Linked DNA regions of Homo sapiens: all the other regions are linked to region 1. Evidence: fine-mapped expression QTL. A gene starts in region 1. Each other region holds a variant in brackets. All regions are shown on one strand. Distances are from middle to middle.

The links.
Region 2: its variant is fine-mapped to the expression of GALNT2 in whole blood (TOPMed, PIP above 0.99).
Region 3: its variant is fine-mapped to the expression of GALNT2 in thyroid (GTEx, PIP above 0.99).
Region 4: its variant is fine-mapped to the expression of GALNT2 in whole blood (TOPMed, PIP above 0.99).

What each region holds. Positions count from the first base shown.
Region 1 is chr1:230,062,675-230,070,282 of GRCh38, forward strand. GALNT2 (polypeptide N-acetylgalactosaminyltransferase 2) reads left to right here and starts at 4,564. Exons shown (of 16, transcript NM_004481.5): 1 at 4,564-4,732. The coding sequence starts at 4,607. RefSeq lists enhancers at 3,780-3,939, 6,294-6,373 and silencers at 4,070-4,879, 5,320-5,379.
Region 2 is chr1:230,149,622-230,157,229 of GRCh38, forward strand. All of the region lies in intron 1 of GALNT2 (polypeptide N-acetylgalactosaminyltransferase 2), which reads left to right. Among named protein-coding and RNA genes, the nearest start is that of GALNT2, 86 kb to the left of the region's middle. RefSeq lists an enhancer at 601-830. The variant GTGTC/G (reference allele first, on the strand shown) is at 4,478.
Region 3 is chr1:230,133,216-230,140,823 of GRCh38, forward strand. The region is part of intron 1 of GALNT2 (polypeptide N-acetylgalactosaminyltransferase 2); the gene reads left to right. Among named protein-coding and RNA genes, the nearest start is that of GALNT2, 70 kb to the left of the region's middle. RefSeq lists enhancers at 3,702-4,202, 4,203-4,703, 7,081-7,608. The variant C/A (reference allele first, on the strand shown) is at 3,726.
Region 4 is chr1:230,275,877-230,283,484 of GRCh38, forward strand. It overlaps GALNT2 (polypeptide N-acetylgalactosaminyltransferase 2), which reads left to right. Exons shown (of 16, transcript NM_004481.5): 16 at 3,427-6,246. The coding sequence ends at 3,582. Among named protein-coding and RNA genes, the nearest start is that of PGBD5, 150 kb to the right of the region's middle. RefSeq lists an enhancer at 6,424-6,583. The variant C/T (reference allele first, on the strand shown) is at 3,671.

The DNA of each region.
Region 1 (7,608 bases):
GTATGTGTTAGAATTTTCTTCTTTTTTAGGGCTGAATAATATTCCATTGCATGGATATACCACATTCTGCTTGTCCATTTATCTGTTGATAGATATTTGTGTTGTCCCACCCTTTGGCCACTGTAAATAACACTGCTATGAATGTGGATATACAAATATCCGTTTGAGTCGCTGCTTTCAATTCCTTTATGTATACAACCAGAAATGGAATTGCTGGATCATATAGTAGTTCTAAATTTAATTTTTTGAGGAACCACTATACCATTTTCAACAGCAGTGCGTAAGGGTTCCAATTTCTCTACATCCTCACCAACACTTGTTATTTATTTATTTATTTATTTTAAAAATGTTTTATAGGCTGGGCGCGGTGGCTCACACCTGTAATCCCAGCACTTTGGGAGGCTGAGGCAGGTGGATCATGAGGTCAGGAGTTTGCGACCAGCCTGGCCAATATGGTGAAACCCTGTCTCTACTAGAAATACAAAAATTAGCAGGGCATGGTGGTACATGCCTGTAGGCCCAGCTGCTTAGGAGTCTGAGGCAGGAGAATGGCTTGACCCCAGGAGGTGGAGGTTGCAGTGAGCCGAGATTGTGCCACTGCACTTTAGCCTCGGCGACAGAGCAAGTGTCCACCAAAAAAAAAAAAAAAAATTTTATATAATAGCTATCCTAATGGATATGAAGTGGTATCTCACTGTGGGTTTTTGTTGTGTTTTGTTTTTTATTTCCATAATCAACACTGGAGGTACATTACAGTTTGTCCTCATGAATTCTAGTTGTTCTCATGAGGTACATTTTGTCCTTGCAGTTTTGACTTTGTCTTTGAAATGCCCCATGTCACATCTAGCTATTCTTCTGATTCCCAGGTCTAGAAACTACAGTGACTTCAGACCTGCCCCATGTACAATGGAAAGACTTCCATAACCTTTTTTCTTCTACCTCTAACATTGTCTAAAGTTTAATCTCTATCATACATCGCTTATTCCATCAAACTAATAATGATTTTACTTTGCAGATCAAATCCTAATGATATACAATTGATAAGTGTTTAGGAAGGGAAGTTTTGGGCTATAAATTGTCCCTCTTCATCTCATTTAATGCTTTTTGGCCTACTCTGTTTTGTTTGATATCAGAATCACAGCACCTGCTTTTTCAGAGTTGGGGTTTCCGTTATGCCTACATTTGAAAATCTTTTATTTTAAAGGGTGAACTGAGCCCACTTATAAATTGTTATATCTGATGTGGGTTGGTCTCAGCTGTGTCATATTGTTTCCTATTATAACTACTGCATCACTGTGCCACACTTACTGTGTTTCTTTCATTATTTGGTATGTATTCTTTGCTATTTTTAGAACTTTTGGGGTTTTGGAATAGGGTTTCCAATATTTGGGAATACATATATTTTGTTGTAGTGATTTTTATTTATATTTTTAATATATTACCCTTAATTCCTATATTTTGTTTCTAACCTTTTAACATCTGGTCTGTCTGTTTTATATGGTATCCTTTCACTACTACCTGCTACTGATATTGCAGACAATGATATTATTCTATTTTCCCTTCGCTCTTCCCCTTCTCCTCCAGTTGTCTTTAGTTGCACCTGTTCTAAGTTTATCAGAAAGTATAATGTATATACACTAGTCTTTCACCTTCTGAATATACAAAATGCTCTCCATTAGTCACTCTGCTGGCTTCCTCAGCTGTCTCTTGGTTGGAGGAAGCTCATTCTCTAAGATTCCTCATGAAAGGCCCATGTGAGTCACGTTCTCTGAATTTTTGCATTCAGGTCATATCTGTTTGCCTACAACCTTGACACTTGAGGGCTGGGTATAAAAATCACTGCCTGGTACTTTTTTGTGTGTGTGTCATGGAGTCTCGCTCTGTCACCCAGGCTGGAGTGCAATGGCATGATCTCAGCTCACTGCAACCTCTGCCTCCCGGGTTCAAATGATTCTTCCACCTCAGCCTCTCGAGTAGCTGCGATTACAGGCACCTGCCGGCTAAGTTTCATATTTTTTTTAGTGATGGGGTTTCACCACTTTGGCCAGGCTGGTCTTGAACTCCTGACCTCAGGTGATCCACCCACTCTGGCCTCCCAAAGTGCTGGGATTACAGGCATGAGCCACTATGCCCAGCCTGCCTGGCACTTTTGTTCCTTGTTAATGCTGCTCCACTGTTGCCTGGCTTTGCATGTTGCTGTTCAGAAGTCTGATGCCAGCATAAATTTTTATCTCTATAAGCAATTTGATCTTTTTTGCCTTTAAAATCTAATCGTTTTACTAAAATATATTTAGGAGTTGATAATTCCAGATCATTTCCCAAGGTACATGGAAGTCACTTTTGACATGTACATTTAAATTTTCCCTTATTCCTGGATTATTTTCTGGGGTTATAGTTTTAATATTAATTAGGTTTTATTGTTTAATGTTTGTACTTTAGGGACTCCACTTAACATGTATTTTGGTCTTCCTTTCCTGGCTTTTATTTTAACCTCTTCTCTCTGAACCTTTTTACTTCTATCTTTATATTATTTTCAATTTCTTGATTGTTTTCTTGCCATTCTTCAGTGTCCTTTTACATATTTTCATTTGAATATATTTTCCCTTGGACACCTTGTAATTATTCTTTGTTTCTGGGATAGTTTTTGTCATTACTTTCAATTTCCTTCTTGAATTTGCTCAACCCTTGTTGCATTTCTTCCTAATTTTTGTCTAGTCTGTCTTCAGTTCTTGAAATTTCTTATCCTAGATATGTGTGTGTGTGTGTATGTGTATACAAATACGTGACACTTTGTTCAGTTTGACATGTGGTATTACAATTTTCTTATGCTTCATGGTTTTTATTGTGGGGGTTTTCATCAGCGAAAATGTTATGATTTATTTTTTATCATCAGAAATGTGATTTCTGTTTTCTTTTTGCAGAATCTTTAAATGCAGTTGATTTGATGTTTTTCTGTTACTAGGCATTTTGAGGCAGGGTTCCCGGTTCAAGAGTGTTTTCTTTTATCTGTGTACTGAAATGCAGTTTTTAATAGATAATGTTGGTGTTTGGGGAGGGGACTGGCTGTCTTCTCTTTCATTTCTGCAGGATTTGTAATTTTCCCTTCTGACTTCCTTCTTTCCCTTCATTGTCAGGCCTCTGAAGGACATTATCTTCTTTTCGTATTTATCTGACTTTTTCCCAGAAACAAGGCTCCTTCAAGCCTCTCACCTCTTGTCCCATTTTCTTTCAAATCTCTTCCCTTGATCAATAAGGCACCTGACCTCTGTTCAGTTTTTAGTTCTTGGTGTTGGACTTTCTATTTATAAAGAGGTGACAACCCTGTACTTCACTTAAGTCCTTGGCAATAGTGGAGGGAGCTCAGTTGGAATTTGGTATCTTTTCTTTCTTCTACTTAAGTAATTTAATGTTCAGTTCATGGCATTCTCTCTAAGTAATGCTGAAGGCTTGTTTTTGTTTCGTTGAGGATATGGGTACGGACTTATATCAGGCAGCTGCCATTATCCTCTGACCGAGAAGCTCCTGAAAACATTTAATATATCAAGTTCTAAGTAAAATTTCTGTCTTTCTTAGGAACACTGGAAGCTTTGCGTGTTGCAAGGGCATCACCAAGGTTACATAGATTATGTTACAAGACAGATCGTTTTCTTGTATCGTTAAAGATGCTTAATGTGCTTTTTAAAGAACGCAACGAATGAGAAAGAAAAGATTTTAAACAATATATTATTGCTTTCCTTCTTCCTCATTTTGTGTTTATTGAAAAGAACAACTCTACCATTGATAGCTCTGTCACCCACAGAAAAATGTTCTTTTGAAAATTACCTTCTCAGTTCCTACCAACTCAAAACCTCCACATCTGCCTATATAGATAAATAAAATCGATACCAGCGGGTCAGGAATGTTTTGCTGCAAGATTAGTGAGAAAACTGCAGCAAGCAGCAGCAAAGTCGGGTTCAAGCGGGCGGTTTGCACCAAAAACTCAGGTCAGTTGGCCAATAAGAGCAAGCCCGTTAAGGGTCTGAGGTGGCCCCAAAGACCAAGGCTGAAGAGGTGACAGTCTGGGCAGGAAGCACCGAGGCCACTACCGCCCCCGTAATCGAGAGGCCCCGTGTGCGTGAGCAAGGCTCTTTGCCCACGTGTGCGCGCGCTCCAGTCGGGTCCCGGGGCAGCCACCTGTCACTCACGGGGGAGGGGGCGGCCGGCGGGGGGAGCACGCTGAGGGGCGGGCGGCCGGGGGCGGGGCGGCGCCCAGGCCCTCACGGCGGAGCCCGGCGTGCTGCAGCCATGGAGACGCGGCAGTCCCCTCCCGCGGCCCGCGCCCCGGCCCCCGCAGCCGCCGCCGATTGGTCGCCCTTTGCTCCCTGACCCCCCTCGCCGCCTCCGAGGCCGCTGCTTCCTGCTCTGGTGCCGCGCGGCGCCGCCGGCCCGGGGCGGAGCTCGGGCGCCGAGTGCGCGCCGCCGCCGAGCAGTAGCACCGCGCGGGAGGAGGAGCCGCCGCCGCGCCCTTCCCCTTCCTCCGCTCCTCCCCCGGCCCCCACCGCGCCCGCGGCCGGCCCAGGCAGCACTCGCGAGCAGCGGCGGCCCCGCCGGCGGCCGAGTTGGGAGAATGCGGCGGCGCTCGCGGATGCTGCTCTGCTTCGCCTTCCTGTGGGTGCTGGGCATCGCCTACTACATGTACTCGGGGGGCGGCTCTGCGCTGGCCGGGGGCGCGGGCGGCGGCGCCGGCAGGAAGGTGAGTGGAGCGCCCTGCCGCGGCCGGGCCCCTGCGCCCACCCCCCACCCTGCGCCCCTGTCCCCTGCCCTCTCCGCGCCGCCCCTGCGCTCCTCCGCCCGGACCTCCGCTCGCGTCGCCCGCCCTCGTCCCGGGCCTCCGCGCCGAGTGCCCAGGGCAGGGGTGCACCCGGCCCCTCTGCGCACGCCGGGCTCCGAAAGGGCGGCCCCCGCAGCCTTTCTCTGCCCCCTCTCGTGGACGTCGCCCCTCTCTCTGCTCGTCGTAATTCGAGTCTTGTCCGGCCGCCGGGAGCCCCATCCCCTGCGGTTGGAAGTTTAGGGATGGGGGTGTTGGGAAACACAAAGGGGGTGGGGAGGAGAGGAGAGAGAGGCGACCGCTTTTCCAACGCGTCATGTACAGCAGGAGAGAGGAGTCCAAGTTTCTTTTCAGCCCTTTGATACCAGCGGCTGCAAATCCTCGTCCCTTTCCCCCTGTCACTCCGCGGGGCGTGGGTTCCGTGTTTCTGCCACCTTCTTTGCCCTTTACCTTTGGGGGGCAGGGGCGGCCGCTCCCGTGCCAAGTAAAGCCCCAGGGCCCGTGCGAGCCAGGGGCCAGTGCGCCCCTGCGCCCCGAGCGAGGCCAGTCCCGGCCGTTCCCTTGCGGCCCCAGCGTTACCCTCTGCCCAACCCGGCCCCCGGCCCTCCCGCGCGAGCCGGACGTGGCCTCCTGCGCTTGCATTTTCCATCCCCACTCCCCGCTTCAGGGAGAATCCCTCTTCTGTGGCTGTGTTTTTAACATGCTCCAGGGGCCGAGTGATCTGGCTGTGGGGACCGTGTGAGCCGCTCTGCGGTTCCGCGTCCTCGTGCCGCCGCTCCGGACGGCCGGGCCCTGGGCATTCGGGAGGATGGTGAGCGCCGAGAGGAGCCGGGACAGCGCGGTCCTGCGGCCGAGCGCCGGCCGGGAGAGCAGGGCGTCGGGCTGTGTGCTGGAGCATGCCGGCAGGGGACGTTTGTAGTGTTTTACTGGCTCCTCGGCTTTGAAAGCAGCGTTATCTTTTCCGAATTCCTGTAACCCTCGTTACTGTGACATTTAGTGTCACCGCAAACCCAGAAAATTCTGAGTTAATGGAGATGGACTACGGGTGGTTGGGTTGGAACAAGAGAGTGGTATCCTGAAACAAGCCAGAGGGAACTAACTAGATGAACAGACTTCAGTTCTGAAGTCAGACCCCTAAATGTCCACGCCGGGGTTTGGCTGCTTCAGAGGTTTTTTCTTTGCTTCATTCATTCATTCATAGCCGAAGATGTTAGGTGGAATGGGTGCCTTATGTGGTTTCTGGTAAATTACGTGGATTTGTTTTATCTAGAAGGGCAGAAATAAAGCCCTCTTTCCACGTGCTGAATCGGCCTAGCTTCTGAGCTGACATTGTACTCTTAGCGTTGTTTTTGTAAAAAATGGTATAGGTAGTATATGTACGCGAAGACTTGGTTTATTCTTGAACAGCAAAGAGCATGCAGGCAGCAAAAGCCGTGCAGTCCATTCAGAGATATAATCGTGTAAAACTGGAATGATTTTTAAAACTTTGCTTCCCGGTAAACTGTGCCTTGGCCACTCTGCATAGCCTGGTGTGCTGGTGAGACCTGGCAAAGCTTTCTGCCTTTCATGCAAAGAAAACCAAACACATAAGCCACCCTTGGCGTTTCTCTTTCCTTAGTCTGCCACTTTCATTAGTACACGTGATTAGAAAGAGCAAGCGTGCTCGTTCGCCTCCCGGAGGCTGATTCCTCACTCTGGTGGGCTTCAGTTCCTGGATGGTGTGAGGGGTCTTCCATGCAGAAGTCTTCAGACACTCCTGAAGTGTGTGATTCTTAGTTTGTTTTTTTTTGTTTTGTTTTGTTTTGTTTTGTTTTTTTTAAAGAATTCCTGGTGGCAATATAGACAGGTACGGAGACCAGGTAGAAAAAGTGGGGGAAATGAACAATTAATTACACATGGATTGGTGATTTGGGATTCTATTCTTTCTGTCAACGAACCATAAAATTTAATGCTACCCCTTAGGATGCTTTAGTGATTTGTCGGTTGAGGAAGAGGTGTGTAAATGCAATAGCTTTTGAAATTGCAGTGGAAGACTCATTAACTTCGTGTGGTGGACCCAGGGTTAAAGAGAAGCCTTAAGATGGTTTCTGAAGGAGGTAAATAGAGCCCTGCTGTCACGAATGCCTGATGTATAGGAAAATCGTGTAGTCTTCTTTCTTCCCCAATTGTTTCCATGGATTTAGACACTAGAAGTGTCTCTAAATTTATTTCATTCTCATACCAAAAAAAAAATGTGGTTTGTTTGGCTTGTAAAGTATGGACATAAAAAAAGATAGCGGGCCATGCACAGAAAGGCAGAATTTAAAAGCTAGCTATAGTTTTTTTAGAGATAAGTGGACCTATATTTTTTCTCTTGCCTCATACTGTTCAAGTCAGGGCTTTTATTCCATATTTAGCCAGTTTCTGCACATCCTGACGTTTTTCATAGGGTACTAGGCTGCAGTATTGGGCTTTAGGGATCGTCTGAGGGGAGTCCAACTAGGATTTCTGCTGCTTCAGCAGCCCAGCCCAGGCTTGTCATTGTGTGCCCTGCCTGTTAAGTAACTCATCACAGAACTGTTATTCTCCACTTGGCAAAACCCAGAGAGCCAGCTCACCTCAGATTGCAGGTTTAGTAAACTAAGCAGGAGGGAGTGCTGAAGACCAATCTCAGGCACTGCCGCACAACTCGGGACTCAACACCCAGGCTCAGGACATGTATGTTAAAGCAGTTTATTCAAAATATTGTTTAAAATTATGTTTCATTTACATTTGTGTCCATACCCTTTCCCCCCATATTTTGCTCTTTCCCCCTAAATTGA
Region 2 (7,608 bases), 87 kb after region 1:
TGCGTCCTGCCACAGTGTTACCTAGGTGGGCTTAATGAGGTGGGAGTGGGCTTTTTGTTTTGTTGTTTTATGCCTCAGCCATGTAAATATAAACAGATACATTGAATCATTCAATGTCCAGAGTGGGAAATTACAGCCAAGCCCTCCTCACTTTTAGAATAGCATGGCGTGAATAACTGCAAAACCTCCCTCTGGTCTTTCCTGCCTCTTTAAGAGTTCTGTCTCCAGAGACTGGCAGAGCCGTCTCTGGGCAGATTTGCCGAATTGTTTCAGCAGGGCTTCTCCGGTGGCCATCAGATCAATTGATCTTGACACATGGGGTGCCTCTGAGGGCTTCTCACTCTTGATTTAATTCTCAGAAACGCTTCTCAACACCGTTGGTGTCTTTCTTAATTATACCATAATAGAGGTTGACAGCCACACAGTATGATGGACCCCAGGGTGAGGATGGCTGGGTGGGCTTGTGGGGCTGCTGAGGCAGAGACCTAGGAGGGTGCTCTCCATTCCTGGATGCGGAGCCCATGAGTGGCTTAAAAGACATGCACTGGCTCCGCCCTGGGGCCAGGAGAGCCATCGCCTGCTTGGTGACTGCAAAGCTGCCTACCTCCGTGTGCTGCCGTTTTTCTGTACCGAAGCTTCCCTCTTTACCTCACCATAGGAAGCCTGAGATGTAACACTCAGAAGAGGCTTGACAGGCTTGGAATCAAAGGCATGACTTCATACATCACCCAAGGTGTCATATTTCTTCTCAGAAACTTATATTTGGATAAAACAAAAATCCTTTTTCAACCTTTGAAACGGTTTCCAACAGCTGCTTTAAAAAGACATAGTACAACAACTCCTTCCACTTCCTCTTTCTGCCCGCTTTGTTTTTGTCCGCAACCTTTGCAGAGAAGTGAATGTCTCTGTTAGAGTTGGAGTTGGAAATTGGGGAGGGATGTGTGACTTGATTCTGAAAGGAAAGTCTCATCTCTTTGGTAGAGCATTTTTGTTTTGTTTGTTTGTTTTTAGACCTTAAGCTCTACTTATAATTCTGTCTAAGACACCTTTGTGGAGCAGTTGGAGTGCCTGGCTCCTCATTAGAGAATGCGCTGCGACATTCAGCCTCTCCTTGGCCTTCTAGGATGGCGGGAGGCACAGACACACACTCCTTTTCCCACCCAGGGATTTGGCGTTCAGAATGGGGGCTTTGACTGCTTGGCCCTGACTGTGCAGTTTTCTGGATGGAAGCCTGCTGTCTTCTGAGCACAAAGGAATCCATCGTTTTCTTTGCTTCCCTAAGGAATCTATTTTCCCAGTGGCAGAGCAACTTAGAGAATTCCCAGCCAGGGCCACCATTCTCAACTCCTCAGGACGAGGCTGGTGCACCCGGCATGCAGGTGTCTGTAACTTTGTGTGACTTGTTGAACTCTTTCCTATTTAAGGTGCACTACCTGGGTTGCCTGGAGCACAATATTCTTCCTCTTGTGGAAATATGTTCAGGATCTTGTGTGGTGTCCTGGGTTTGATTTTATAGCTTTGCCAACATAATGATTACAGTTGACGATCACCGTGGCCACCGTTGTCTTTTCCCTCCATTCCCCTGCAGCTTTCTGGACCTCCGGGATGTCCTCCTGGAGGGAAGGCCCCTGGAGAAGTGTCCCAGTAGAACGCACTGTTGTGTCACTTGCTCTGACCACCGTTGACATCGCAGCACAGCGCTGCACACCCGTGACAGGGTGATGGTAGAAGATGAGGGTCGGATTGTCCACGTAGTGCCTCCAGGAAGCTCAGGATGATGGCCAAGCCAGATATGTAAGGTGGCTTTGGGGCACAGGATGATGCCCTCGAAGTAATGCATGGTCTAGTTGTTTTGTAAACAGTGCTGTTTCCTGAAGAAGCAATGATTTTCTGACTACCCGGCCTCCCCAAGATAGCCCTGGGAGGAGAATTTCTGATTCTCTCTACAGCAGTGCCTTCTTCTGTAGGATCTCCCCACATGTCCCTGTGCCCACCACGTAAGCTAAGGAAGGAAAGCAGAGCTCCTCAGTTCATTGATGGCTTCAACTACAGATGAACCAGTGTTACAGGAAAGGGGTCCCGATCCAGACCCCAAGAGAGGGTTCTTGGATCTCGCTCAAGAAAGAATTCAGAGCAAGTCCGTAGTGCAAAGTGAAAAGTTTATTACAAAAGTAAAGGAATAAAAGAATGGCTGTTCCATAGACAGAGCAGCCTCGAGAGCTGCTGGTCGCCCATTTCTATGGCTATTTCTTGATGATATGCTAAACAAGGGGTGGATTATTCATGCCTCTCCTTTTTAGACCATATAGGGTAACTTCCTGACATTGCCATGGCATTTGTGAATTATCATGGTGCTGGTGGAAGTGTAGCAGTGAGGACGACCAGAGGTCATTCCTGTGGCCATCTTGGTTTTGGTGGGTTTTGGCCGGCTCCTTTACTGTAGCCTGTCTTATCAGCAAGGTCTTTATGACCTTATTTTGTGCCGATCTCCTATCTCATCCTGTGACTTAGAATGCCTTAACTGTCTGGGAATGCAGCCCAGTAGGTTTTAGCCTCATTTTACCCAACTCCTATTCAAGATGGAGTTGCTTTGGCTCACATGCCTCTGACAAAAGTAAAGCTCTCAGGGGGCTCAGGCTGATGGGTTCCCTTTTACTTCTTTGAATCCCCAGTCGGGCTTGGAACCATGGCCTGTAAGCGCATCCGACACTTGGCTAGAATCTCGAACCTGACTCTTTCAAAGATGAGGGCAAGGTTTTTCAAATTGTAAGTTGTGACTCAGTAGATCATGAAACTAATAGAGGAGAATAACATCAGTATTCATGATGAATAATTAAATAGAAAATACTGGAGCACATCATACATGTAAGAGTAGGTACCCTTTTATGACACCGTATGTGGATGGATGGGCGTGCATGTATTTATATAACGTATATATTTAAATACATGGTTTGGGGGATGGATGTCTACATCAAATTTATTTGTTACTATGGGTTTTGGCAAAAAAGTTTGAAAGCTGCTAGGATAGTGCATAGCCAGGAGGGAAATAAGAAGAAGCTATGAGAGAACTAGATAATCCTTCTCCTACACAGACTCGTGTTTTGTGTGAGTGGGACACTCCTCAGCCTGCGTCCACTCTCAGGTAGCTTCCTCTTTGAACCGCTTGTCATTGTGAGGCAGTGACCATCTGCGCCAGCCCTGTCCTTGGCTCTAACGTGATGTTCATTTGCTCACCTTTCTTGGACTTCCTTTGCTTCCTCAGGCTTTAGCTTCTTGCCCTGCTGCCTGTATCTATGGCCTTCTCTCTGGCTGTGGTTTAGGGAAAATCACTCCATCTTTCTGTGCCTTCAGTGTGTTTGTCCACTGTGAGTGAAGCATAATCAATACTTGGTGACTTGGCTAAACTGCGTTCAGTCCTTCTGAATACTTATTTACATTTTATTTATTATTTTTATTTTTAGAGATGAGGTCTTACCGTGTTGTCCAGGCTGGAGTGCAGTGGCGTGATCATGGCTCACTGTAATCTCAAACTCTTGTGCTCAAGCGATCTTCTTATCTCAGTCTGTGGAGTAGCTGAGACTATAGGCCTGAGCCACTGCCCCTGGCCTGAATACATTTAAATGAGATAAAATTAAATGAGAGAATGAAAATGAATAGGCCCATTGCCATGCCTGAGACAAACTCAGATGTCTGCTAATGATCGGTTCTTTTCTCCTTACATGCGGGAGTGTTTCTGTAGTCAGACTGGACACCTACACACTTAAACAGTCATTGATGGGGGGTCAGCCTTCAACATTTTAAGGGTCTCTTTGCGTTTTTAGTTTTATTTTTAATCACAGTAAGCACATTTTCATGTATTAGAGAAAAAGAAAAAACACCCATAATGCTTTCTGTGTAGAAGCAAGCATTACAGTGGCCTTGGTGGTGTTTTTTGAAAGGGCTGGGGAATTAATTCATCGAGAACATCTGAGGACGCCTTCCAGATTCACCAATCATCAGGCCCCTAAGTACCCTTCCAGCCCCACGCCCCTGAGTTCTTTTCATGATTCCAACCCAGAGGTCTCAGTTGTGAAAAGTTTCTTTTGTCAGACACAGTGAGCTCAGTCTGTCTGGCCGAGGCCACTCCGCTCTTGGAGATGGATTACAGCCTTTGTTCCCACTCCTGGGCCTCCTGGCGTGGCCTCGGGGGCCCCTGGTTGGTGGCACTCACCATTCACTCTGTGGAGGGGTCTGGTGGAACTGATATGTTCATAAAAGCTACTGGTAAAAACAAAACAACAACAAAAAAGCTACTGGTGCCCAGTGCCTCTTACAAACTCTCATGCAGATTTATCGTGTGGGTCTGTCTGCGTGGGTGTCTACCTTATAAAGACTCAGAAATGGTTTCTCTTTTCACCCATTGTTTGGAGAATAATAAGTCTCTGTCAGATTAGCTTCTTGGGGCCTCAGTGCTTTTTGAAAAGAGCTTGCATAATCA[GTGTC/G]TGGTGAGCTGTGAGGCCAAGAGCATATTGCCATTGTGCAACGGGGATGTGGATTTTGTACATTTTCAATATTTCACCATTCAGTCTTGTCAGAAGTCAAGCTGCCGTCCACCCTGCACTTGCAGTGGAGACATAGGCCCTTCGTCCACAGTGGATAAGTTTTTCTCCACGTGGGCCACATTCTTACTAGAAAAGAAACCCCGGCCCTTTAGCTCATCACCCTCTGCTCTGGCTTTCCCCGAGTTGGTACAGAGCTGATGCCGTTGGTATTTTTAAGAAATAATCTTGAGTCAGAAGGAATGTGCCAAACCGGCACAGGTGAGAGATCTCTGGACCCCCTTATATTTGCCTATTCTGCCCCTTCTGAGAAATTTCTGGGAGAGAAGGTAGTATTATGGGACAATGAAGCCCTAACCCCCAGGACCTCAGAATGTCACTTTATTTGGAGATAAGATCTTTATAGATATAATCAAATTAAAATGTGGTCGTCAGCATGGGCTCTAGTATGACTGGTGTCCTTATGAAATGGGGGATTCAGACAGAGCCAGACACACGTGGAGGGAAGACAGTGACAAGAGAATAGACAACAGGCACCACCTCTAAGCCAAGGAGAGAGGCCTGGAACAGCATCTTCCCCCATGGCCCTCGGAAGGAACAAACCCTGTCGCCCCTTGAGCGCAGACTTCCAGAACTGTGAGAAAGTGTGTTTCTGTTCCTGAAGCCTCCCAGTTTGTAGTACTTTATTATGGCAGCCCTGGCATACTTACTCAGGTAGTCTCTGTCAGGTTATTTATAACTCACCTTATCACATTGGTAACTTGTGGTTTTATCATTTGGCATGACATCCAAGGCCCCTTGCAGTTCTAATATTTACGTACTAGCACTTAAAAAGACTTTCTCTGACCACAGGGTCTTTGCTGGATGGGGTCTTGGTCTGGGGCTGGGGCTTTGGTTTCCAAACATCAGGGTCCTCCCAGATGAGGCTGCCCCGCGCCGCATGCACCCCCCACCCCGTTTCCGCGTGCAGTTTTCTGCGGAAGTATTTCCCAGGTCCTCGGTTTCCCTTCTGTGTGAGAGCGTCACTTTCTCTCACATCTGTGGAGCGGAAGTCCTGAGGCAGTCACCGTTTGGGGCCTGCATGGGGTTGTGAGAGCCCTTGTGCTGGCTCCTGCCCGCCCTGTTCTTCGTTGGCTGCCTAGGGCTCCCTGCAGGTTTTCGCTCGGAGGTGGGCCCTGCCTGCAGCCGCTGACCTCCGGGAGAGACCGGCCTCTCCCTAATTATAGCTCATCTCTTAATCCCGGTCATCATTTCAGCTGGCTGTCCTTGAACTGAAAATTGGAATACAATTCAACCTGTAGCTGTTTTAAAAACTGCCTTATTCAGAGAGGGTCAAGATAAAGAAATTTTAGCTTCTTTCAGGATCTTCCAAAACAGATCAGGAATGACTGAATCAGGACAGGGTCTCCTCCTTTGGGGCTGGGAGGGACAGGGCAGGACTCTCCCAGGACAGTCCCATGGGCAGAGCTAGGTTTTGTGAGGACTGGAGCTTTTGTCATTTGAAGACCATTTCTAAGAGAAAGAGTGATTATAACCCCAAAACTGGGCTCCCAAGTGCATAGCACAAAGGACCCCACAGAAGATCACAAATGGCCCATCCTGACTGGAAGAGAGAGATTAGATTGAGGGCCAGGTCGTGAGGGCACTCTGAGGGTCGCTAAGACATTCGGCGTCAACCTCCAGTTCACTCAGGAGTTCTGAGTGGAGGACAAAAGCCTTGCTTTAAAAGGACTAATTCTGTAGTGATTTTGCCACATGGAGAGGGGAGGGAACTATTGTGTCAGATCAGGAAAACCATGGGATCAGTGCTAAGGGCCTGTGTGGTGGGCTCTGTCTGGGTGGGAGAGACTGTGTCCTGGTCATGGGGCTCAGTCTGTGGGTGGGTGATAGAAGAGTAAAGCTTTTGTGTTTTTAGGGTGGGGAAGAGAAGAGAGAGTCATTGATTTTAGATACAAGTGGAATACCACGTAGACCTGGCCTCTGGGTGGTGATGACCTTCTGGGGTTGATGTCTGGAGACGGTGCGGTTTTGGGATGGGGGAGCAGACGAGGGAGAGAGAGAGAGAGAGAGAGAAAGAGAGAGAGAGTGTGTGTGTGTGTGTGTGTGTGTTTTACAGCAAAGACCTGGATCCTGAATCTTGGGGAGAAAACTCCTTGCATTGTACATATTGGGCTGGTTACATGGCTGAAGTTCACCGTGTCATTTTAGGCCTGTTTCTGGCTTCCACACTGGTTTGCAATGTCATCCTAGGGAAGTCAGCTTGTCCTTGGTAGGATATATTCATTGGTGAGTTCACTCAAGAGACTCCTTTTTGCGTTTCTTTACCTTCAACGTTCGTTTCCTAAAATTGATTATTCCTTCATAAAGTTGCCAGCATTTTCAACATGCTTCCTAGATGCTGGATATTTTATTATCGTTTGTCACGGATCAATTTATTTTTTTGGCCCTTAAACTATCACATTTTCTGCAGTTAAATTTGCTTAACTTTCTAATGCAGGGGCAGAATGTAACCTGCAGGTTGTGGCTTTAGAAAGCAATGTGGAACTCGGGGCCATGGTAAGCAAGTTGGTGGTGGTTTTTTTTAATAGCACATCTCATCCTTTGATGTCAGAACACTGTCTACACACTCTGATTCATTTCAGTCAGTCCCTAAAATGTGAAGATGAAATGTTGGGGAGACAGATCCTCTGGCCTGAGGAAGCTAGCCGTCTTGTTTGGGAGATAAGAAACATCAACTGTTTTGAAAATACTTTGGTTCTATCATTAGAGAGCTGATCAAGTGCAGTAAGAGGCAAGGTCAGACTGGGCTGTATTATGTTTTGATTTGGAGAAACTATCACGAAAGAGGTAACATTGAGTCAGAGCCTGAGAGAATTGTGGAGAATCCCTGCAGGAGTAAATAAGACCATCCCAGGAGGGCTCTCATTTAAGGCCTCGTGTACTGTGGTCATTTGACCTTGGTTCAGATGCCACTTCAGTTTAGATGCATTTAAAAGCAGAGAAAACATTGGAACTTACTGTGTAGTATTGAGTGAGCATTAATTGAGATGTGTGTGAACCATTGAGCATG
Region 3 (7,608 bases), 71 kb after region 1:
TCTTTACTATGTCCTTGGAATAGATTTCTAAAAGTGGAATTACCGGGTCAGAGAGTTTGAACATTTTTAAGGCTTTTGATAGATGTTCTCAGCTCTTTTCCAGAAAGGTTGTACAAGTTTACACTCAGACCAGAAGACTCTTTTGTACCTTTGCCACATCGTTAATATTTGCAAATAAAATCTTTGTTTATTGCCTAGGTGGTAGTTGACGTTTCTGTTTCGATTTCTTTTTTCTTTTTTTTTTTTTTTGAGACAGAGTCTCACTCTGTCGACCAGGCTGGAGGCTGGAGTGCAGTGGCATGATCTCAGCTCACTGCAACCTCCACCTCCCGGGTTCAAGCAATTCTCCTGCCTCAGCCTCCAGATTAGCTGGGATTATAGGCGCCCGCCACCGCGCCCAGCTAATTTTTTGTGTTTTTGGTAGAGATGAGGTTTCTCCATGTTGGCCAGGCTGGTCTCGAACTCCTGACCTCAGGTGATCCGCCTGTCTTGGCCTCCTAAAGTGCTGGGATTACAGGCATTAGCGCCACACCTGGCCTTAATTTTGATTTCTTTAGTTCCCTTGAACTGAAAAGTGTCTCATGTGTTACCTGATCCCGTAGCCTGCTTTTCTCATACTTTGTGTTAGCTGTTTAATAAATATTACAAATTGCAACCCTTTGTCTATTTTTAGGTAATATTTTCCCCACACTTTTCCTTTTTTTTAAATAGAGAGGAGACTTAACTTTATGTAGTTAAATTCTCATCCTTTTGCTTTCTGGTTTCCTCCATTTCTTTTAAGCTTAGAAATGCTTGTCTCAACCAGAGATCAGGTAAGTAATACTTAATTACATATTACTCTGATACTTGGTTGGTTTGCTTGATTTTGATATTTAACTCTTCATCCACCTGAATCTGTTTTTTTTTTTTTTTTTGGCAGAGTCTCACTCTGTCACCAGGCTGGAATGCAGTGGCGCAATCTCAGCTCACTGCAAGCTCTGCCTCCCGGGTTCACGCCATTCTCCTGCCTCAGCCTCCCGAATAGCTGGGACTACAGGCTCATGCCACCATGCCCAGCTAATTTTTGTATTTTTAGTAGAGACGGGGTTTCACCACGTTAGCCAGGGTGGTCTCAATCTCCTGACCTCATGATCCGCCCGCCTTGGCCTCCCAAAGTGCTGGGATTACAGGTGTGAGCCACTGCACCTGGCCTATTTGGTATTTTTGAGAAGTGCAGCTCTAAGTTGGTTTTATCCCCTTCCCCCAATTCCTAACCAGTTGTTCAGGTGAGACAACCATTTGTTATTTCTTTGGTTTCAGAGAAGCTGTATCTATCTATCTGTGGTGTATCCCTCTCAAACCTCCCCTCATTCTGGGTTGGGCCCAGGAGGAGGGTATCCAACCCAGACCTGGTGGAGAGGAGCAGCTTTTTTTAAGGCCAGTAGTGCTCAATATTTATAAACTCCTTCTGTATCAGCTCATGAGACATTTCACAGTTGTACTCTTCGCCTGCTTGGCTGTGTGACTGAGAGGAGCTGGGCGTGGGGTGATACAGCAGCGAGCAGGTGAGGTATCGGGGCAAGCCCACCAGCATCTCTCCCGTGTCATCTGCACTTCAGTATTGGATTCCTCCCCGTGGACCCAGTGCTCAGAAAATCCAAGGCCAGTCTTGGTGCTACCACTTGCTTAGACAAATCACTGAGTTGTCTGTGTCAGCCAGTTTCTCCGCTGTATTTAAGTATGATCAGTGTGAACTAAAAACCTATTTGGCCTGCCTGTTGTGAGGCTTAAATGAGAGGAAGTATCTGAGAGTGTTTCAAATCATCTAAAGCATTGCCCTCACATAATTTCAAAGCAATATTAATGTATTAATTTGAGCCTTTAGGTGCTAAGGGTTGTAAGATGCACCATCATTTTGTCAATTTTAAGATGCATTCCCCATTTCAGAGATGTCGGAACAGGAAAAGCCATGCATCCTGGAATTGGTGTTTGGTCCTGACTCTCATGGGGGGTGAGAAATGGTAGAGACAGTGTCCTAGACTCGGGGGTGGGGATGCGAGGGGTGTAGAGGAAGACAGTCATGGATACCCATATTTTATTCTCTAATGATACAGAATCTTCATTTTGGGCCGATTCCTGTGGCTCTATTTTCTCTTTGTAATTCTACTTTGCGATGCATGTTTCAGAAGAGAAACCATTTTCCAGCTTTCTTCATCTCATTTCCGTTGTGCTAACAGAGAAACTCTGAATTCATCTGAGGTGCTTTTTACTTTTCTTTCGGTGAATTGTCAGGCATGAGCCACAGAAGCCATCCGAATCAGGTTTCTGTGTGGAAATCACACGGCGGGGAGGTGGAGGCACAAAATGATCTTAATGACATGCACATCTTCCTGCTCCCTTGTGGAGCTGAGTGTGGGGGGCCCTTTGCAGTCTGGCAGGCTCGGCTCTGGATTTGAATTCAGTCTCTGCCATTTATCACTTGAGGGATCTCAGATGAATGCTCTTTCCCTTTCCCTTTCCTTGAGACACAGTCTCCCTGTGTCACCCAGGCTGGAGTGCAGTGGTGTGGCAGCCTCGACCTCCTGGGTTCAAGCAATCCTCTTGCTTCACCCTCCTAAGTAGCTGGGACTACAGGTGTGCACCACCACGCCTGGCTAACTTTTTCATTTTTTTTTTTTTTATAGATGGGGGTCTCACTGTGTTGCCCAGGCTGGTCCTGAACTCCTGGTCTCAGGCGAGCTCCCCACCTCCGCCTCCCAAAGTGTTAGGATTACAGGCGTGAGCTGCTGTACCTGGCCAAGTGCTCTCTTTCTGATCCTTAGTTTTCTCTTCTGTAAAGTGAGGATAAAAGGATATATTCTGGAGCGTTGTCAGGAGAATTGAATGAGCTGCATGTGTAAGCCCTAGCAGAGTTTCCTGGGTATAGAGGAGGCACTTAGTCAGCGTCACCTCCTTCCCATCTTCTCAGGAGTTGGAGGGTGACAGAGCAGAGGAAATTTAGGTTTTCACTCTTCTGGGGGTGGGTCAGGTAACTATGATCGAACCTGCACGCATTGTTTTAGTGCCACGTTGATTGGGTCGCGCCTGATCATTTGCTTCTGGTCTGACTGTCCCAGATCCCTGTCAGCACATGTCTGGCACCAGCCATCCTCTGATAACCCTGCCATAGAGCTCCAGGAGAGAGTGGGGCCTGTTCCTGGTGGCCTGAGTTGTTGAATTGTACTCTTTAGACATCGAACCTAATGTTTCAAAACACACATTCATTCGTGAGGCCTGTCTGCCGCGCTTTCTCTCCCGGATGTGAGTTCCAGCACATGCATGCACCCCCTCACTGCCCCCCATCCAGAGCCACAGCCTGCCCTGTCGGAATATGTCCAGCCCTAATGAGGGAGGCGTTGTCTTCAGATCACACACTCCGCAGCGGCTCTGCTCTGCCGCGCCCCTTCAGGAGCGCTGGGTCTGAGAGAGGACTTCAGAAATAACGGGGGCAACGTTCCGCTTTGATGCTATTATTAGAATTTTCCAAACACCGCTTGTTTGTAGCTTCACAGGGACTTGGAGAGAGGCGAGTGGGAAGAGGTTGCTGCTAGTGCCATTGTACGGGAAGCTCAATGGCATTTATCTGGTCCAAGGTCATTCAACAAGAACAGGTTGAAATCACCCTCAGACCGAAGAGCCGGCCGTCTGTGCATTTTGCTTTTCCCGCAGTTCAGCCGGGACTCTGCTTCACGGATGCTTTCACCTCA[C/A]GGACAGCGAAGCCAGACACACAGGCCCTGCGTGGTTGGGGGCGAGAGCATTTTTCCATAGTCAGTGGGCTATTCCGAAGCTAAGAGACCGTTTCCTTGAACCAAAAGGCTGATTCTTTCCTGCTGGAGCTCCTGTTTTCATACTCATTTCCCTGGGGAGTGGAGCTGAGGCGTGTGGACTGTTCCCACCCCCGCCTGCACCCAATAAGCTTTGGGGGAGCCAAATAGTGCTTTTCACTGGAGCCTGAGTGGATGCAGGGAGGCACACATGCTTCATAGAAGGGAATCAGTGATCTGTCCCGCTGCTCTGGGGCTCCAGCATGGAGCTTCACGTAGGCTGGGGTGGGGTTGGTTCTGTGTGACAGCCTGCACAGAGGTGGTGGATATGGCCGAAGCCACTTCTGCTTCATGCTGTGTTTGGGCCAGATGTCCTTGGTGGCTGGGAGGGTCTGCTGTGGAGGTGCCCATGGTCAGAGAGCCTGCAGGCTGCAGTGGCTGACCTCTCCCCTCCCCACCTGGCTTTGCTGAGAGGGTGCTTGCTGGGTGTTCTCAGCTGGGCAGCCAGCCGAGGCTGTCACAGTGACAAGGGAGGAATTATTTTCTCTTCAAGGGGTGGATGTGAATTACTTAATTATTTGCAGAAGTTTCATTGCTTTTTACTTACATTCTCCTGATTCCTCCCCAGTGGAAGCATCAAGACCCCACTGCAACAGGCTCGTCAGCATCTTGTCACAGCTGTGGATGTTTGCCAGGCTTTCTGGACGAGTCCAGCTCTAGATTGCAACCTGGTTTAGCTACACACGTTGAAAAGGAGAAGAAAAAAGTAGAGATAAGATAGGATTTGGCTCAGGATTGATGTTGTATAGGGTTTGACTTTTATTATCTTTCACTCTTGAAAAGTGAAATATATTCTCCTTTGATTTCTGTTGACGTTGTTGGAAATAGAGATTTCCTTCAAGTCTTTAAACAGCATTATTATCGTTTCCTAGGTTCTTAGTTTTGATTTGTTTTACAAGCAGTAGTGCTTCATTCTAATCCTCCTGCATCCATTTTACCTTTTTCTCCTTGGAATTTGTTCAGTGATGACTTAATAGAAAAAACACCTTGCATGTCGTTGCGTGCGTCTTTTCCAGACCTCTGTCTGTGGCCTCTTCTCCTTTCATCTGCCATTGCCCAAGTGTTACTGGAAAGGGGTCCTCATCCAGACCCCAAAGGACGGTTCTTGGATCTTGCACAAGAAAGAATTCAGGGTGAGTCCATGGAGTAAAGTGAAAGCGAGTTTATTAAGAAAATAAACAGGGCCAGGCATGGTGGCTCAGAGCGCCTGTATTCCCAGCACCTTGGGAGGCCAAGATGGGCGGATCACCTGAGGTCAGGAGTAAGAGACCAGCCTGGTCAACATGGTGAAACCCCATCTCTACTAAAAACACAAAAATTAGCCAGGCATGGTGGTGCGTGCCTGTAATCCCAGCTACTTGGGAGGCTGAGGCAGGAGAATCGCTTGAACCCAGGAGGTGGAGGTTGCAGTGAGCTGAGATCACGCCTCTGCACCCCAGCCTGGGCGATGCAGCGAGACTCTGTCTCAAAAAAAAAAAAAAAAAAAATGAAACAGAAGAAAGAATGGCCACTCCATAGGCAGAGCAGTGGCATGGGCAGCTTGACTGAGTATACTTATGGTTATTTCTTGATCATATGCTAAATAAGAGGTGGGCTTTTTATGAGTTTCGTGGGAAAGGGGCAGGGATTTTCCTGGAACTGAAGGTTCCTCCCTCTTTTAGACCATCTACGGTAACTTCTTGACGTTGCCATGGCATTTGTAAACTGTCATGGCACTGATGGGAGCGTCTTTTAGCTATTGTGTTATAATTAGCATATAATGAGCAGTGAGGATGACCAGGTGTGGCTTTTGTAGCCATCTTGGTTTTGGTGGGTTTTGGCAGCTTCTTCACTGCATCCTGTTTTGTTTATCAGTGGGTTCTTTATGACCTGTATCTCATGCTGACCTCTTGTCTTATCCTGTGACTGAGAACGCCTAACCTCCTGGGAATGCAGCCAGTAGGTCTCAGCCTCATTTTACCCTATTCAAGATGGAGTCACTCTGGTTCAAACACATCTGACATGAGCACTCAGTGTCTACCCTCACGGGGGTTATGGTGTGAGGAGACCAACAAGAGCTTCTGGCTTTTTCTAGCTGCTACTTCCTGTTGACCATTGACAGCCACTTTACCCGGCTTTGGTCCCCTCACCTTACTGTTTGAAAGGTATCTAATAATCCCCATTTCAGAGATTTATATTTAAATGAAGACATTTAGATGAGAACAATCAGGGTCCTCTTGCTAAATCTGAAGAATCCCGATGTTATCGTTGAAGCCAAGTGCTCCTTCCTGGCCACATGTGTCCCTTCTGATGAGAAGTTTATCCCTCTCGGTTCCCTGCCACAACTTCCAAGCTGCATGGGACACACCAAGACCCCTCTTCTAGGCTAAGACAGCACAGTGCAGCCTGGAGTTCAGGGTCTCAGCCTCTGCCTTCAGCAACGCCTCACTCCTCCTGCCCCATGAAGGGAGGACGGTTATTCTGCAGCAGGGCTGCTGGCACTGGGCCTGGAGGGGAGCCACTGTAAGCCTATCAGGCAGTCCAGAACCAGCACCTGTTCCACTGACAACAGCTAGAATTGTAAGAAAATGGCCACCAATGGAAAGAGCAGTAGAATAGTAAGGGATTTTTTGTTTTTTGGTAAAATTCCAAGGAAAATACAAGCAAAGCACTGCGAGCGTAATAATTTGCCGTTGCATGGACTAAGGGGTAAGGAAGGATGAACTGGTGTATTAAAGGAAATCCAGTTTCGTTCCCACCTATGAAGATTACTCAGGTTTATGGAGAGTTGTTTTGCTTTGGGCTGTTGCGGAAATAATCTACTTGGAATGAAGTTCTTTCAGCTCCTGGGAACCTTTAATTGTCCTGTGGGCTGGTCATTCAGGTTGTACATCCACAGACTCACAGAATTGCGTAGCCCTGGGAGGAAGGGACCATAAAGATGAATCAGCCCAGCCTTCCTCAGACATCCTGCGACCACCCCAGGCCCAGAGAGGCTGTGCCTGGTCCAGGCTGCCGGGTCCCTGCGTCAGCTGTACTGGAACTGTCTGCTGAGTGCGCCCTCCCCCACGGGGCTTCTGTCTGCTTCTTGGACACCCCTTTCTTCCCCTTGGGGGTCGGCTTTTTAATGGCCAGCTCACCTCTGCCTGAGAGGAGGAATGAATCCCAAGGCTTGGGTTTAGGGGATGGCTCACCTCTGCCAGCCTGTGCTTCATGTTTGGAGACAGGTGATGGTTAACCAGGCAACAGTCCCTGCCAGTAGTGTGTACACAGACAGTAGTGTGGCTGGTAGGTTTGGCCAAGGCCTGGAGTTGGATTCCTACCCCTGCCACTGCCTGGCTCCACTGCCCTGGGCCAAGTCCCTGCCCTTCCCAGTGCCCCAGCCCCTGGACAGCAGTGCCTAGGTGACAGAGAGTGGTCCCTGTCCTACTGAGGGGATGGGAGCACAGTGGAGCGTGACTTCCCGTGAAGCTGCTGTCCGTTGCTATAGAAATCCAGCCTCGGAACCGGGAGTACTGTCAGTGGTGCTCGGGAAACTTCCCCCTTCCTCCAGCCTGTGCTTCCTGGAGTGACGCGCTGCCACAGCTGGAGGCTTCTCTGCAAACGTGTATTATGGTTTTATCTTCTCCCCTCCCACAATGAGTTCTGTCTGTGTCAAGTGTTTAGAGATCATTCGAACCTTTCTCCTCACCCCTCCCTTCCCCTTTTCCTCAGGGAAAAGCTTGTGCATAACTCAGTAGTAAATGAATTGTCTAAATCATGTAGCAAAACACAAAATAATGTGACT
Region 4 (7,608 bases), 210 kb after region 1:
AGATATATACATATATAAACACCACATATATACATAGACACCACAGATACATACATATATACATGCCACATATATATACGTATATATACATGCCACATATATATACGTATATATACATGCCACATATATATACGTATATATACATGCCACATATATATACGTATATACATGCCACATATATATACGTATATATACATGCCACATATATATACATATATAAACACATATATACATATATAGACACCACAGATATATACATATATATACACACCACATATATATACATATATACACACACACACATATACACACAGTTTCTTTAAACATTTCAGAATAGACTTTCTACCTGCCTTGTAAGCCGGTTTTCTCTGACGTATTCCCTTGTGGCAGCTTGTGGACACACCCTTTCTCAAGGCATGGGGTAACAGTTAGTGTCAGGAATAGAAATGCAAGCACAAAAGGTCCTCCCTGTATGCCCATACTTGGAGTGCCTGCCCCTGTTCTTACAGTCGGTCCTTAGAGATAGATGGGATGTAGGGAAACTGAGGCACAGAACCTACTGGAGCCAAGAGCCTAAGCCAGCTTCTAGTCTAACCCTGATTTCACAACAGAAAAGTCTCAGAAAGTCATTGCCTCCACCCTGGAGTCATCTGGGAAGACCAAGGCCAGGACCGAGTCCCCGGTTCTGACCCCAGTTGTCAGGGAGACGCCTGCAGAGGGCCCTCTTTCACCTGTCTGTCTCCAAACCCCTGCGCCAGCTCTGGGTGCTCCTCCTTCCCTGCTCTGCAGAGTCCCAGCCTGTCCTGGCAGTGGGAGCCCCTCTCTAGGGTTCTGCTCACAATCCGCATCTCTAAATGTCCATCTGTGTTGATGACTTGATACCAAAATGTGTAAGGGAGTGCCTGTTAAACAAGAGAAGGCTAGCACCGCTTGGACCCAAACCACCTAGAAATTGCCTCACTCATTGGCCCCTCGAGAGGAAGCTCCTCGAGGGCAAGGCTGGCATCTGCTGAGCCAAGTACTGGGTGAGTCTCAAACACATTCCCCTGGGATGTAACGGAGCAGAGATGTCTTTGGATGTAATGGATTGATAAAGTGATGACTTTAGTTGACACCTTTTTAAAAAACAAATATTACTTCAATATTGCTTAATTTCAAGAATTGACAGGTGTTTCTGCTTCAGTCCCAGTTTTGGGGAACCATAACTGACACGGCTTAGGACCTTTGTGAAGCATGAAAAGACCTATAAATAATAAGTTTTTCTGGATGTATGGCATGTATAAATGGGGATCTGTTAGGTTTTAAACCCCAAGACTCAGGCTATTAGAGAGGATGTGGGGGCTGTTTCAGTAGAGTCTGACTGCCTTGAAAATCTGCGCTCCCCACCCCCAACCACAATCCCATCAGACAGACAGATCAGAGCCCACAAGGCCACCTGTGCGAGACGGAGCTGGGGTTTTGTTGTTGTTTTTCTAAGGTTCTTGATTTAGCTGATGCTTTGACACATGACAGGCAGTCCCTCCAGTGGCCAGAATCAGATTCCGTTCATTCCGAATTCTTTGTTGAGAAGATTCCTGGCTGCTCAGAGTAACAGGGCAGCCTCAATACATACACACTTTACATGACAATGGGGAAAAACAGCATGAGGGGTGATTGACAGCAACGAGGGAGCTGGAAATGAAAGAGGCAATGACAGGCACTTAGCAAAAGCCTCCCCGGCTCCTCTGATTGCACTGTCTTTCCCTGCTGGCAAGAACTCCAGGTGAGCAGGTGGACGGAAATAAGGAAAGCAGGGTACAAGTGACAACATCCTTGTGGTGTTTCGCGCAGGTCGGGTCCCCAGCACTGGGCTCCTCTGCCTGCACCGGCTCCTCCCTGCCTCACTCACTGGCCCCTCAAGAGGAAGCTCCTTAGCAAATTTTATCTTGGAACTGAACTGGCTTTGCCAGTTGGAACATTTGGTTTCCAGGCACGTCCATGTTTTCATATGTTGTGCATATTTGCAGAGTCAAAGGGGAAAGGGAGGCAGGAGTGAGAAAATTTAATTCTGCAATGTCAAAAGGATTTGCAAAAAATACTTAGGTGAAGGAGCTTTCGTGCACACAGTATAAAAAATTAATTAGAACCACAGACTTCATTATTTGAAACGAGCTTTGGGGAAGAAAAAAATGTTACTTTTTTTTTTTAAGAACAAACATTAGAGATTTTTAAAGGGGGATTTTTCTGTTTTTCTTTCTTTTTTTTTTTTTTTTTAAGAGACAGGATCTCACTCTGTTGCTTAAGACTGGAGTGCAGGGGTGGGTATGACCATAGCTCACTGCAGCCTCGAACTCCTGTGCCCAAGCGATCCTCCCACCTCAGCCTGCAAGGAGCTAGGACAACAGGCATGCACCACCATGCCCTGCTAATTTTTTTTAAAAAAAATGTTTGTAGAGATGGGTTCTTGCTATGTTGCCCAGGCTGGTCTTGAACTCCTGGCCTCAAGCGATCTTCCTGCCTCGGCCTCCCAAAGTGCTGGGATTAGTGTCGTGAGCCGCCTGCACTCAGGCTGAAAGGGGTATTTATGTTACTTGCTAAACAGGGCTCCTCAGATTTCCTTCAGGCTGGGTTGTGCACTTTGATTCTGGCTTAGTTGGTGGGTAACGGGTATGTGGGTTGAGTTTGGTTGTTCGCTTGATTTGAGTGTTAGTAAAGAGGCATCGTACCCTGTACTTTACAAGCGGCATGTTCAGAACTCAGCAAACATTGGTCCCTGCCATACAGAGCACCAGGGGGCTCAAGGGTAGCAGAGACAAGTTTCTCATATCCACCAAGGAGCTTGCACACCAGTAGAGAACAGACTACATAGAAATAGGCTTCTCAATGCTATGTTCTGTTCAAACAACCATCTCTCTTCCTGACATTTGGCCTGACACCGTTCCTCTGGCTCCCCCGAGCAGAAAGCCCTAAGTGGGAGCATGGAGGTGCCCAGACCAAGGCCTCCAGGCAGGGCTGCTTTCCAACAGCCAGGGGAGGATCTGGCCCTGCATTGTGTGGATCCCTTCTTGGGGTGAACCATCACTGGATCAAGCTTTCATACGAAGGCATGCAAATTCCCCTACATCAAATCCTGTGTTAATGACGAAGGGGTGGGTGCCCAGAGCTCTGGGGCTCAGAGGAGGGGACACCCACAGAAAGTTTGGGGCAGGAGACGTTCTGAGTTTTGATCCAAGGCAGAGAATATGTTTCCTTCCTGGGTCCCAGCAGCACCTGTGGCTGGTTTCCTGTGGGGCTGCTGCAAGCTCCTCGGCCGTTCAGATGAGAGGCTGGGAAAAACGTGTCTATCTGTGAGTTTTTAATGCAGCCACAAGGTCCTGAATTCACACGAATCTGTTTGTACTCCTTTGCTTGTGCCCACACTCTAAGGCACTCTCCTGTGTCTTGCAGAAATGGGAACAGATCGAGGGCAACTCCAAGCTGAGGCACGTGGGCAGCAACCTGTGCCTGGACAGTCGCACGGCCAAGAGCGGGGGCCTAAGCGTGGAGGTGTGTGGCCCGGCCCTTTCGCAGCAGTGGAAGTTCACGCTCAACCTGCAGCAGTAGGAGGGTCCGGGAGGCCCTGCCGTCCTGTCTCCTGCACCATTGGGTGGAGTCTGGTGATCACATTATTGATTATGTTTCTTAAACTTTC[C/T]GCGAAACTAATATACCTCAGTATTCCATCATGGTCTGAAAGTCAAACTTCGGCAAGGCACGGACGACTGTGCAGACACAGCAGCGGCAAGAAGCGAGAACTGCCCTCCCCCTCCTCTCGGTGCAGCCCAGCCGGGCCCCCTTCCCCAGGCCGGAGCGCCCCTCTTCCTTCCAGCTTTCACTTCTGCCGGCTCCGCAACTGAGTGACACCCAGCGACAACCGACTGGGGAGTGGTAGAAGCAACTGAACGGATGCGTGCGAGCTGAGGACAGGGCGGGAGGAGGGGGCACACATGCCCCAGGGGAGCGAGGAGAACTCTTGAAATCTCCATTTTCAATCCCTTCGAAATCACGTATGGTTTCCACAAAGCCGAGTCGTGTCACGTGGCAGGTTTACGTCAATAGTCCCTCTCTCTGCTCCTCCATTCGCAAGTGTCTTCCTGGGCCAGACTCCCCTCCACCTCATGTACTTGCTATATTGAGGATGAAGTTTTCTATGGTGGGACACTAAATATAAAGCTATATAGAGAAAGAATGTACGGTCAGTTCCCTATGGTTTCTGTAGATCATCGTCATCTTGTATATTCCCCACAAAGCCGTTCGCAGCTTCCGGGAGAAGGGGCCAGAGCCCGGTGGGGCCAGTTTCTCACAGAGGGAGGAGGTGGCCTTTGTCCCCTGGAGCCCGATCAGCCAGTTGGTGCTACTGCTGTGGCCAGCTGGGGGGCTTCCTCCAGACCACCGGCCTCGGCCCCGGCATCCCTGTTGGGCGTCAGCCTGAGAGTCCCTACTGTGCGTCAGAATCCACCTTGCGTGCTGTGCGTATCTGTGAACCTGGAGCGGTTACTTATTTTGACAGATATCACTTTGGGTCTTTTTACATTAAATTTCTTTTCTCTAAGGAATATAAGACATACCCCATAGCTCTGTGTGAGCCAGCAATACCGCTGCCCCCTGGCGACAGGGCAGACCAATGATGCCAGGCAGCTGTCACACGCTAGTATTGGCTTCATTGTGATCTGAGCCCTGCACGCTGGGCCTTCAGAATTAATGGCCAGCAGTGTCAGGGATGAGCCCGTCAGCCAGGGCACAGGCCTGGCTCACAGTCCTGCACACCTGCTGGCCTGGGGAGCTCCAGCCAGGCAGCGAGTCCTGCCCCGCCCGCAGCTCCCTCCCACACCCCGCCTGGCCAAGATGACTGCTTCAGGGGGCTTTGGGGAAAGAATTAGGAAGGGTCAGAACCAAACAATACCTGCTCATTTACACTGAGGATTCAGGGCGGGAGACAGGAGCCTTGGGGTCCTGTTAAACCACAGACAGTTATGAACTGAAAGTCATAACGGGGAGAGGTGCCTGGCTTCTACCTGGGTGCTCAGGAATGTTCCTCGTCACCCCTGCCACTCTGTGGTCGGTGCCCTGCTTCCTCCTCCACTCCTGGCCGCCTTCTCCAGCGCCGCACACACAGATGCTCAGTCTCAGAGAGGCTGGCACGGCCTGGCAGTCTGAGAAAAGCGTCAGTTAGGCACACCTGCAGGCCCCTCGGTGGGACAGCGGCGGCCTTGGAGTTAGGAGCCACCCTGGGAGGTTGTGCCGGTGCCATGCTCCTCCCTGTGTCTTGTATGAAAGGGGCCACTGTGTGTCTTCCTCCCCGGCGGGAGCCCCACATGTGTGCACTGTAGGACAGCGGCCCCGAGGTGGAAGCCTGGCTGGAGGGCTGCCCTATAGGTCTTCTCTTCCCGCCTCCCCTGCCATGCAACCAGATGTGTTGTGAGTGGGCAGCGTGCCCCCACGCTGGAGTAACTCCGCACGCTTCTGTCTTTCACGGTGGGCGCTCGGGGGGAGCCTGAGGAAAACCCCCTTAGGTACCTGTGCGAGGCTGTGGAGTGCAGGCCAGAGCAGGGTGTGCGTAGCCCCCAGCACCCAGGTTCTTCTGTCAGACCCTGTGACCTGCGAGCTGCTACTACTGTAAGGAGGGAAATGGATGAATCTGGCTCGTTTTAAAATCACGTTTTCTGACGAATCCTTTGCCCCTTCACCTTTACCCCGCCCGCACCCCTAGGCCCTCTCAGCCTTCCTATCATCCCACGTGTCTACCCAGACCCTTGTGCGGCCCATGCCCTGGGGGCGGCGTCCTGTCCCTGAGCTGGGAGGCGGCTTTGGATGGTCCGGGCGTCAAGAGCAGGGGTGGGCCGGGGAGGGGTCCTTTGCGGTGAGCTATGTTTACATGACACAGTGTGCCAAAGTGACTTACTGCGGTTGCGTTAGTTTTTAATCATCAGGACTATCTCACCCTCCCACTCCTGTTTTTAAAACTCAGAATTCTTTCCTAAGAGCCCTTCGAGCAAAGCGTGCCGAAGTTAGTTGTCTTCTCTGTGCTGGTCCTTTCTTATGTCCTCATAAAAGCTCAGATGATGGTATCTGTGAGTATGTTTTGCAAATTCAAAATATAGTTTGGTAATTTTTTTTTCCAGTTGATTTTTAAAAAGAACTGCTGTACAGAGCTTGTACTTTGTCCATTTTATAGATGGAAACCATCCTTGAAAATTGTTTAACTTAAATAAAGAGAAGATACTTTCTAGATACCGCTCTTTGCTGGCCAGAGTCTGTCCTGGTGTGTGAGGGCTGGGTGGGGTGGGTGTGGGGACTGGGATTGGGGTCAGCCTTCTGCAGCTCCTGCTCAGTGGCTGTTTCTTATCACCTTTTGCAGATGCGCTTTTATTGCTGTGCCCTTTGGTTGGTTATTCTTACTTGTAATAATAATCATTATCATTTGTGGAGTGTTTATGATGTGCCAGGCACCCAGCCAAGCCCTTAAATACATTTGCATTTTACAGCCACAGGGGAAGCTGGTGAAGGAAGTTGCTAGCCTGCTCAAGGTCACGTCCTTCCTGTGTACCTGCCTGGAGCCAGCCCTTGGCACTCGCACCCAGACCCTGTGCTCCAAACCAGGGGACAAATATTTTTACAGTTTTTCAAGTAGTTAAGATTTATAGACTTGTTTACCAGTTACCTGGGGCTCTTCGGTTCCATCCAGGCGTCTCTGAGGTTCTTCAGATACTATTTGTTTTATTTTATTTTTTTTGAGACGGAGTCACCTAGGCTGGAGTGTGGCGGCGCAATCTCGACTCACTGCAACCTCCGCCTCAGTGATTCCAGCGATTCTCCCGCTTCAGCCTCCAAGGTAGCTGGGATTACAGGCACTCACCACCATACCTGGCTAATGTTTTGAATTTTTAGTAGAGATGAGGTTTCACCATATTGGCCAGGCTGGTCTTGAACTCCTGACCTCAAGTGATCCGCCAGCTTCGGCCTCCCAAAGTGCTGGGATTACAGGCGTGAGCCACTGCACCTGACCTTCGGTACCTTTTAAATTCCTGCATTTGAGCCAGGCCACAGTAGTGCGTGCCTGTAATCCCAGCTATTCAGGAGGCTGAGGCAGGAGGATCGCTTAGCCCAGGAGTTTAAGACCAGCCTGGGCAACGAAGTAAGATTCCCATCTCAACAACAGAAGCAAAAGTACCTACATTTGAACAGCCCCACAAGGGTTCAAGGAAACATAACCTTGACCAATTATTTAACAATTTTTTTTTCAAGACAGAGTCTCACTTTGTCGCCCAGGCTGGAGCGCAGTGGTGCAATCTTGGCTCACTGCAACCTCTGTCTCCTGGGTTCAAGTGATTCTCCTGCCTCAGCCTCCCGAGTAGCTGGGATTACAGGCCCCCACCACCACACCCGGCTACTTTTTTGTATTTTTAGTAGAGACGAGGTCTCACCATGTTGCCCAGGCTGGTCTCAAACTCCTGACCTGAAGTGATCCACCCGCCTCGGCCTCCCAAAGTACTGGGATTACAGGCATGAGCCACCGCACCTGGCCCAAATTATTTAGCAATTTTGATTGACATTGGGGTGAAGTAGGAGGTTGGCCACTGGCAGGACTGGCCC